Linked DNA regions of Homo sapiens: region 1 is linked to region 2. The links come from fine-mapping of genetic effects on gene expression. A gene starts in region 2. The other region holds a variant in brackets. All regions are shown on one strand. Distances are between the middles of the regions. Region 1 overlaps MADD (MAP kinase activating death domain). Region 2 holds the start of ACP2 (acid phosphatase 2, lysosomal).

Region 1 (5,378 bases), 31 kb before region 2:
CCATCAGGAGGACAGAGGCACAAGGCAGAGCGGAGCAGAGGGCAGGTAGACTCACTGTTGTGAATTCGCTGAAAGGCATAGTTGGTGGGGTTAAGGATCCATTCCCCAAAGTACTCCACAGCCTGAGTCCTGGCCAATTTCTCGGCAAAAGGAGTCTGCCGGGGACGTGAGGCTAGAAAGGAGCCAGCTTGAAAAGCTACCACAGGCCGAGGAAAGAGGCGCAGGGTACGCGTGTGCATCTGAAATCCCTGCAGCACGTTGGCGGAATTGAAGAACCGTACCATGGCAACCCTGGGGAAGCAGATGATGAGATAATCTGAGACCCATAGGGTAAGGATTCCCATGATCCAAAGTCTTAGAACACCTCCCAAAGCCATCACTTAACAGGCTTCCAACATCAAGGGGAGAGATATCTTAAAGAATCATCAGCCCCCTCTTCATCCTGAGCACGTGGTTTACTATTTCTTCACTTTGATTTTACTAAGGTGGAAAATAACAACCAAATATAGTATATATTTTATACATAAAGAAACCCTGGGCTGGGTGCGGTGGCTCACGGCTGTAATCCCAGCACTTTGGGAGGACAAGGCGGGTGGATCAACTGAGGTCAGGAGTTCCAGACCAGCCTGGCCAACATGGTGAAACCCCGTCTCTACTAAAAATGTAAAAATTAGCCAGGCGTGGTGGCAGGCGCCTGTAATCCCAGCCACTCAGGAAGCTGAGGCAGGAGAATCACTTGAACCCGGGAGGTGGAAGTTGCAGTGAGCTGAGATTATGCCATTGCACTCCAACAAGAGTGAGAATCTATCTCAAAAAAAAAAGGAACCCTGGTTCAGAGAAATAGTCTGCCCCAAGGTCCCTTAGAGAGCAAAGAAATTAATTTAAGAACTTGTGATTATACAGTCGGCTTGGTCTTACCTGGTTGCAACATCCACAGAATCCACATCATTGCCATAGATGAGTGGGTTGAATTCAGTGGACGGTGTGGACTGCAGGTCATTAGAAGGCCTTCCCAAGAGAAGGGGGATCTCCTGGCCCTCATGAAATTTCTCCAGATTGAGGATGGGCTGGGTGTTGAGACTCATGCTGGCCAAGGCCTGTGGAACAACAAGAAAATTCCTTACACAAGGAACGTCCCTGGGCAGCTAGCCAATCTTAACTCCAAGGAAAAGGCCTTCCTAAGGTCTGCTACCTCGTATTCTCTGGTCAAAAAGTTCTGCAACAAAGAACGGTGCTAATTTGCAAATCACGGCCAACCCATTTCAGACCTTTCATCTTTGAAATAAAAATCCCAATATTCTAGCCTTTAGAAAACAGTTTGAAATATGTAGCTCTCCATCTTAAGACAACCTAGCTCAAGGCAACTTGATCTTATCTGAAGTCCACGACAGTCGTTTGCAAAATTATTATAGTCATTAAATGTTTTTTAAAATTGGAATCTATGTGAAATTATATAGAATGGAAATTTGAAAACAGAGCTGCTCTGAAGGACACAGGAAGCAGAGCCTCAAATGCTCAGGGCTCCCAAGCTAAATCGGCCCCTCAGAGGCTCAATGGGGCAGCGTGAAGACCACTGGTCGAGAGCAGCAGTGCTTCTCAAATGTGAGTGAGGAGAAGAATCACCAGGGGAGGCTGTTAAAATGCAGATCCCGATTCAATATGCCTGGAGTGATCCTGCACTTTAACAAGCCCGAGTGATGCTAATGTTGCTGGTTCACAAACCACACTTTGAATAGCAGGAGTTAGAACACAGGATCAATGAGTCCAAGGATCTTAGCTCCTACAAACATTTAAAATATAATTCTGGCTGGGCACGGTGGCTCATGCCTGTAATCCCAATACTTTGGGAGGCCAAGGCAAGTGGATCACCTGAAGTTAGGAGTTTGAGACCAGCCTGGCCAACATGATGAAACCCCAGCTCTACTAAAAATACAAACAAATTAGCTGGGCACAGTGGTGTGTGCCTGGAATCCCAGCTACTCAGGAGGCTGAGGCAAGAGATTCGCTTGAACTTGGGAGGCAGAGAATGCAGTGAGCCAAGATTGTGCCACTGCACTCCAGCCTGGGTGACAGAGTGGGACTCCATCTCAAAATAAATAAAT[A/T]AATTAATTAATTAATTTAATTAAATATAATTCCATTTATTAACCTCTCCATCTCATTAGTCATACTAAAGCAATCATCAAGACTGAAAACACAGCAAGTGAAGGCAGCTAGAGAACTTTCTGAACTTAAAATTCCCACTAGACTCTGCAGTAACAAGGTATCATATTATATTAGCAGTGATGAAGCAACTGAGGTGAGAGGGATGAAACACAATGACCCATTTAAACCCAAACATAGCATCTAGAGATACTACTAAGTACTTCAGACAACACAGAAAAAGATTTCTAAAGGCCCTTCAAATGAGAGCAGGGATTCCTAAAAATAAACACAGTGTTATCTACTGGTGTTCCTGTACAACACATAAGGCAGAGGAAGGGAATGAAGCTTTGTCATGTGTTACCTTCAGGTACTGTGTTCAGCATGCAGAGGAAGAAGAAAATCAATCAATAAAAAATGGATGTGAGGAATTACTCAAAGAAAGGAATTTTTTTGTTTGTTTGAGACTGAGTCTCACTCTGTGGCCCAGGCAGGAGTGCAATGGCGCAATCTTGGCTCACTGCAACCTCTGCCTCCTGGGTTCAAGTGATTCTTCTACCTCAGCCTCCTGAGTAGCTGGACTACGGGCGTCCACCACCATGCCCGGCTAATTTTTGTATTTTTAGTAGAGACAGGGTTTCAACATAATGGCCAGGCTGGTCTTCAACTCCTGACCTCGTGATTCACCTGCCTCGGCCTCCCAAAGTGCTGGGATTACAGGCATGAGGCACCGTGCCCAGCCAAATAAAGGAATTTTTGAAGAAAGGAACCCTCAGGATCAACTCTAGAAGATAATATAAAAGCAGCCAGACGGTCCACACTACTAACTTCCACCTAACAAGACTGAGAAAATCGGCCGGGCGCAGTGGCTCACGCCTGTAATCCCAGCACTTCGGGAGGCTGAGGCAGGCGGATCATGAGGTCAGGAGATAGAGGCCATCCTGGCTAACATGGCAAAACCCCGTCTCTACCAAAAATACAAAAAAATTAGCCGGGTGTGGCGGCGTGCGCCTATAGTCCCAGCTCCTGGAGAGGCAGAAGAATGGCGTGAACTCAGAAGGCAGAGCTTGCAGTGAGCCGAGATCGCGCCACTGCACTCCAGCCTAGGGGACAGAGCAAGACTCCACATCTCAAAAAAAAAAAAAAAAAAAGACTGAGAAAATGTTCTGAAGCCATAGAGAGTGGCACACATACAAGAAACAGAGAGTGAAGGGCTATTTTATACAGCATCATAAGCATTAGAAGATGGTAAAGCATACAATGAATTGGAATCAAAAACAGAAATTCACTCTGCCACCCAGAAATGGGATACGCGTTTTCTTAAGCCCATCCAGGGTGAAGAAAACTACTCCACTTGAAGTTTGATAGGAAATTGGCTCTGAGAATAGCTGTCTTCTTATAGGAATCCCACAGCATCTAATACTCCCCTTTCTTTCCTTCGTTCTTCACCTACCTGCTTTAAATGCTTTTTCAGCTCTAGTGATTCTGGTTCTGGCAGGATAGGCAGCACTTCTGCATTGGTGGGGGCAATCACCTGCACCAGAGAAATGATAAAAGACGTGACCTTAGAGTTTATTGCTCAGGAATTTCACTTACATAAATAAAAATAAGAGGACGTATATACATTATTATTATATAAACGAATATACATTATATAACTGCACAGTAAGATATATGTACACACATATATGACATACATATGCATCTGAAATGAAATATAACTTAATGTTATTGGTTATTATCTCTAGATAAAAGGATTATGGTTTTTCTTTTCACTTATTTTATTTACGCTTATTTTTATTTTTTTTAAGTTTTACAATGAGCACACATAAGGGCTTCCCACCAAAGTCTGAATGTATTCACATTGCAGAATGGTCATATAATTAATTAAGCCTGCACTGAAAGACAGTTTCTTACTGGAAACTATACCCCAGGGAAACCATTAAGAGATGATCTATACCACATGTAATGGCCCTCAGATCACAACTGTCTGACTGCTCTTGGAGGATATGGTGGGGGGTCACTTAATTCTGGCAAAAATAAATCCTGTAATTCTCTGAGACCTAACCAAGGGTTTATTTGGCTAATAAGGTAAAAGGAGCATTTAAAAAAACTTGTTTCAGTAAGTCTCGCAATAGAAATTATCCAACAACTTAGGACGTTCCTGAAAGGAATCTAGAAACAGATATCTCAGGACTGGGTCTAGAATGCAATCCTCCTCTAGACTCTACAATGCCTCAGCCAAGAACCTCACCCTATTGCTGTCCAGATCCACTAGCCATACATCATCAGGCATTTTGAAGTCCAGTTTGTAGAGGAAGAAGCTGGCAGGAACCCCAATGATGTACGGGGTTGGAGCCAACAGCAGCTGTGGAAATGATAAAGAAGGTGAGAAACAAAGACAAAACCTATCATGAGCACTTATCAAGTCTGGATTCTTCTAGATAAGGAAATGCAGATACAATCCCTCTTCCAAAACTCTTGAGGCCAGATGTATTTGAAAATTCAGAATTTTTCAGATTTTTTGAAAGGTAACATGGTACATTTTTTTGTATACAGTAGTCTTTCTTATCCACAGTTTCACTTTCTGTGATTCCAGTTAACTGAGGCAAACTGTAGTCTGAAAATATTAAAAGGAAAATTCCAGAAATAAACAATTCATAAATTTTAAACTGCAGCTTGATCATATCTGAAGTGCAGGACAATAGTTCTGAGAAGCATGATGAAATCTCATGCTGTCCCGCTCTGTCCCACCCAGACATGAATCACCCCTGTGTCCAGCCTGTAGCCATCTCGGTTATCAGATCAACTGTCACACAATCTCAGCGTTTGTGTTCAAGTAACCCTTATTTTACTTAATAATGGCCCCAAAGCACAAGGGTACTGATGCTGGCAATTGGGATATGCCAAAGAGAAGCCAAATATATGTAGAAAGAGGCTGGGCACGGTGGCTCATGCCTGTAATCCCAGCACTTTGGGAGGCTGAGGCAGGCGGATCACCTAAGGTCAAGAGTTCAAGACCAGCCCAGCCAACATGGTGAAACCCCGCCTCTACTAAAAATACAAAAAATTATTTGGTGTGTGGTGGTGGCAGTGCCTGTAATCCCAGCTACTAGGGAGGCTGAAGCAGGAGAATCACTTGAACCTGGAAGGCAGAGGCTCCAGTGGGCCGAGATTGTGCCACTGTACTCCAGCCTGGGGGATAGAGGGAGACTCTGTCTCCAAAAAACACCAAATAT
Region 2 (5,378 bases):
ATTTTTAGTAGAGATGGGGTTTCACCATGGTGGCCAGGCTGGTCTTGAACTGCTGACCTCAGGTGATCCACCCGCCTCGTCCTCCCAAAGTGCTGGGATTACAGGTGTGAGCCATGTCCGGCCTAGGTCCCGTTTAGTCCAACTAATTTGAAAAGGTTTCCTTTGACAGATACCTCTTTATTGAAAGGATTTCGGGATCACCAATTACAGTTTAGTAATGCAGTTTGAGTAGCCTGCAAGAAGCAGCCCATTATAGACTATTTAACTGAAAATCACAAAACCTGACTTTTTTTTTTTGAGACGGAGTCTTGCTCTGTCGCCCAGGCTGGGGTGCAGTGGCACGATCTCCGCTCACTGCAAGCTCCGCCTGCTGGGTTCACGACATTCTCCTGCCTCAGCCTCCTGAGTAGCTGGGACTACCGGCACCTGCCACCACACCCGGCTAACTTTTTGTATTTTTAGTAGAGATGGGGTTTCACCATGTTAGCCAGGATGGTCTTGATCTCCTGACCTCGTGATCCACCCGCCTCGGCCTCCCAAAGTGCCGGGATTACAGGCGTGAGCACGCACCCGGCCAAAACTTGACTTTTAATCCATTCTCAAACTGTGCCCATGCCCAAACTGTGAATTTGGGCAAGTCACTTCCTCTCTTTAGGTTTGTTTCCTAAGCTGTAAAGTAAGAGGACTAGGTTAAATCAGGTATTCAGAGATGCTGATTTATGAAACCTGTAATAAATGGTCTTTGTGAACCATTTGGGATTATATGCAAAATTCCATGTGTGTGTTTATATGTGTGAACATTTTTCTGGAGGAGAGGTGCAAAATTTTCATGTGATTCATAAAGGGGCTTGTGATTAAATAAGAAGGTTAAGAACTGTTTGGCTACCCAGGCTTTGGCTCTTACTCTATTTGCTTCTTGGCCTCCTCCATGACAACTCTGGAAGCAAAGTTTAAATCCTGAAGTATATATAAATAATTGAATCTGGAGTCCTAGGACAAAATAAAGACAGATAATCCTGATCTTTTTTTTTCTTTTCTTCTTTTTGAGACACAGTCTTGCTCTGTCATCTAGACTGGAGTGCAGTTGCACCATCATGGCTCACTGCAGCCTCAACCTCCTGGGCTGAAGGTGATCCTCCCACCTCAGCCTCCCGAGGAGCTAGGACCACAGGTGTGTGCCACCACACCCAGCTAATTTTTAAACTTTTTTTTGTAGAGAGGAGATCTTCCTAAGCTGCTCAGGCTGGTCTCCAACTCCTGGGCTCAAGCAATCTTCCCACCCTGGCCTCCCAAAGTGCTGGGATTAGAAACGTGAGCCACCACACCAAGCCTAATCAGGTTTTTGTTGTTGTTGTTTTGAGACAGTCTCACTCTGTCGCGCAGGCTGGAGTGCAGTGGCGTGATCTCAGCTCACTGCAACCTCCGCTTTCCGAGTTCAAGCGATTCTCCTGCCTCAGCCTCCAGAGTAGCTGGGATTACAGGAGCACGCCACTGCACCCGGCTAATTTTTTTTTTTTTGTATTTTTAGTAGAGACGGGGTTTCGCCACGTTGGCCAGGCTGGTCTCGAACTCCTGACCTCAGGTGATCTGCCTGCTTCGGCCTCTCAAAGTGCTGGTATTACAGGTGAGCCACGGCGCCCAGGCCAAGCCTGATCAGTTTTGTTTCCCAAAGATCTGAGGAGATTTGCTTCCAGTAGGCAGATCTGAATCAAAGCATCCCCAGGACCTATGATCTGACCTGCAACCGTCACAGGAGTCACAAAGTCCTGAGGCCAAACTGGCTGCACCTGAATCCTAATGGTCAATGCCAAGAGGGCCATTGATTCTGTGGAAACCCCACCTACTCCCACTTTATGATATGCGCCTGTCCCTTACCTCAAAATACCTCCCCACTGGTCTGAAATTCCTCCCCCAGGGATTCAGTGCTTTGGGTTTGTAAAGTCTGAACATCCTGTGCAACCCAACTCCTTTGGGAAGAGGCATGACATGACGTCTTGACTCTAATTAACTAAAACTTGGAAGTGGAGGGGAGGGAGGACAGGGAAAGGACTGGAAGGGAAAGTGAGAGGGCTACTGAAGCTTTGTGCAGGGCAGGAACGGTAGGCCAGACTGGGGCAACCTCAAGGACACACGGAGTCCAAAGGGTTGTTTACATACTGTGTCCTGCACCCCAAGCAAAACATCTCCTGGAGAACAGGGCCAGGGCTCAATCTCCCCACAAAGGCAGGGGCGTGGAGAGAAGCGACCTCTACTTTCCCATCCCTCGCCTCAATTCTGCACCCGATCTAGCTATGGGGTCAAGCCTGGAGGGGACGCTGGTTCTCCAGACATGGTCCCGCCCACTGCAAGTGCCACCTTGGTAAGGGATTTCTCCGAGCAGAGGCAAACGCGAATTTGTGGCCTTCTTAATCAAGATGAGGTCTTCGAGCCCTGTCTGCCGCGCCAGGTCGCGTTACCTTCTTATGCTCCTCCGCCACAGCCAGACCACGACCCTCCTGCACGCAATCCCACCGAGACTGCGCCTTTTCCCCGCACCCCAGCAGGTCCCTAAGTAAGATGGCGGCGAACGCACTTCCGGCGTGTGTCCTTACGGGTGCGTCCGGGCGGCTGCTTGCAGGTGCCACCCAGCGGGTTCCAGCTTGTTTGCTGCATAGATTACAACGGTGATGGCGGGCAAGCGGTCCGGCTGGAGCCGGGCGGCTCTCCTCCAGCTCCTTCTCGGCGTGAACCTGGTGGTGATGCCGCCCACCCGGGCCCGGAGTCTGCGCTTCGTTACCTTGGTAATGAGAGATGGGCTCACCAAAGACTTCCCTGAAGCTAAAAGGGCAAAGGCCAGCTGGTGGAGGTCGAGGATCTCGGGAAGGAACAGCTGGTTTAGGAGGGGACGACTGGCCTGGGTAGTTGGGAGGCTGGATTCAGGATTGACCTGGAGCCCTGGCTTATGGGAGTCAGGATGACCGAATACGTCGGGGTGAGTCTGCCTTGAGACAGGGAAGTGGTTGAATGGTTAAGACTCATCCCTAAAGAAGCCTTTGGTTATCTTTTTTCCCCAGTTGTCCCCACCACATACGTTGCTTTCACTTCTCTTTTCCCTTCCTACCTGTACCTTGGCTTTGCCTATGGTCTCCAGTAGCATTGCTTAGCTAAGTTAGAATCTCTGGAATCTGGAAGAAGTGACTGACTCCTAGCTGGGGTCTTTTGCAGCCAGTAGGCTTCCCAGAGGGAATGAGACTTCCTTCCCTAACATGGGGCAAAAGGTAGGCTCTGGGTCCCTATCAAGGGGATGCTTCTGACCTATAGGCAAACCATTTTATTCTCTCAGCTGTACCGCCATGGAGACCGTTCACCAGTGAAGACATATCCCAAGGACCCCTATCAGGAAGAAGAATGGCCCCAGGGGTTTGGTCAGTTAACCAAGGTGGGTCAGAAGCCAGCCTTTCCTCAGGATGAGCTGCAGAATGAGCGACGTCTAGAGCAGTCTACAAAACTTGGGGTCCTACTAAACTGCCTTTTCCCATATGGGTGCTGACTTTGACCAGATTTCATAACCTTAATCTCTGTGCCCATGATATTGCTGTGCATGACTGGCCACTTAATGAAAGACTTCTGGGATCAGATTAATTGACTCCAGCAAAGCGTGAACCTGGAAAGCAACAGGGCCTAAACCCCATGGGGCTTGAAGCCACCCCTTCCCTCTAGACCCTCTTAACCCTTGGGTTTGCCCACAGGAGGGGATGCTACAGCACTGGGAACTGGGCCAGGCCCTGCGGCAGCGCTATCACGGCTTCCTAAACACCTCTTATCACCGGCAAGAGGTAAGGTTGGGAGCTCCAGAGGCAAGGGGAACAAGGTATGCTGCCCTCATCTTTTGCCCTCAGGGAGCCTAAGGCTGAGGCTGGGCACTTTGGCCTCCTTCTTGTATTTTTGGTCACAACTACAGGAAAAGACATCTGAGAGCTGTCTGGAACAAAGCCCTAGGAGCTGAGTTGCCCCTGCTTGGCTGGGATGAGGCAAATTTGATTAAGCATCCAAATTCGGACTTAAGGGCGGGCCTGGCAAAGTGGTTTCTGACTGTGAAATCACAGGCTTTCCATCCAAGACATTGAGTACCTATTAAAGGCCAAGGACTGTGCTAGCACTTTGCATTCAGTTGTGCACCATACAGATATGATCTCTGTCTTCATGGAGCTTAGAATGTTGTGGGGGTATCTAATGATAAACCAGACAGGGCCAAGATGAAAGACAGCGGGGAAGACATGCGTAGAGAGGGCTTGTCTTTTCTTGATCAAGATGAGGTTTTTGAGCCCTGTCTGCTGCGCCAGGTCGTGCTATATTCCTAGGGCACATCAGGGAGGACTGGTGAGTGTGCCTGCTCCTTGAGTCTTCGCCCCACCCCAGGAATGGGGGAAGCTGTTCCTCTGATTACCACTGTCAGCCTCAGCCGTATCAAGAATCCATAGACATTGTTATTGTTCTCTTAAGGCCCAGCTCTGTCCTGAGCTTGTCCTTCCCCAGTTTCCTCCTCCCTTTTCATGAGCCACTATCTCTGAATAAGCTCTTCAAAAAAAATTTTTTTTTTTGAGACAGAGTCTTGCTGTGTTGCTCAGGCTGGAGTGCAGTGACATGGTCTTGGCTCACTGCAACCTCCACCTCCTAGGTTCAAGCGATTCTCCTGTCTCAGCCTCCCAAGTAGCTGGGATTACAGGTGTGTGCCACCATGCCTGGCTAATTTTTGTATTTTTAGTAGAGACAGGATTTCATCATGTTGGCCAGGCTGGTCTTGAACTCCTGACCTCAGCTGATCCGCCTGCCTCGGCCTCCTAAAGTGCTGGGATTACAGGCATGAGCCACCGTGCCCGGCCCAAAATATATACATATATTTTAAAGGGGTCTCACTCTGTCACCCAAACTGTAGCACATGCCTCAGTCATAGCTCACTGCAGCCTCAAACTCCTGGGCTCAAGTGATCCTCCTGCCTCAGCATCCCAAGTAGCTGGGACTACAAGTGCCCGCCACACTTGGGTAATTAAAAAATTTTTTTTTGTAGAGACAGGGTCTCACTATGTTGCCCAGGCTGGTCTCGAGCTCCTGGCCTCAAGCGATCCTCCTGCATTGGCCTCCCAAAGTGCTAGGATTATAGGTGTGAGCCACCAGGCCCAGCCCTTTATCTTATTTTTTTCTCCCTGGTCTCTAAGGGTCGTCACTGGAGCCAGTTTCTGCCCCAAGGACCCTGATCTAGACAGGGAGAGAGGTGTTGTTATGAAACCAGACAGACCAGAGAGCCTTACTGATTGACTCAGCACTTTTGACTGGAAGGGGCATTTCAACTAAGGCCATTCCCACAAGAGTTCTTCACAGAGTGGTGACAACCCCCAGTG

What was found. PIP is the estimated chance that this variant, and not a neighbour inherited with it, causes the effect.
Region 1: its variant is fine-mapped to the expression of ACP2 in whole blood (TOPMed, PIP above 0.99).

The regions. Positions count from the first base shown.
Region 1 is chr11:47,277,294-47,282,671 of GRCh38, reverse strand. It overlaps MADD (MAP kinase activating death domain), which reads right to left. Exons shown (of 37, transcript NM_001376571.1): 6 at 4,394-4,507; 7 at 3,593-3,673; 8 at 919-1,097; 9 at 56-291. Among named protein-coding and RNA genes, the nearest start is that of MADD-AS1, 7.9 kb to the right of the region's middle. The variant A/T (reference allele first, on the strand shown) is at 2,103.
Region 2 is chr11:47,246,078-47,251,455 of GRCh38, reverse strand. It overlaps ACP2 (acid phosphatase 2, lysosomal), which reads left to right and starts at 2,642. Exons shown (of 11, transcript NM_001610.4): 1 at 2,642-2,780; 2 at 3,323-3,418; 3 at 3,729-3,815. The coding sequence starts at 2,667. It also overlaps a transcript of NR1H3 not described here. RefSeq lists a silencer at 2,199-2,366 and enhancers at 2,447-2,956, 3,087-3,176.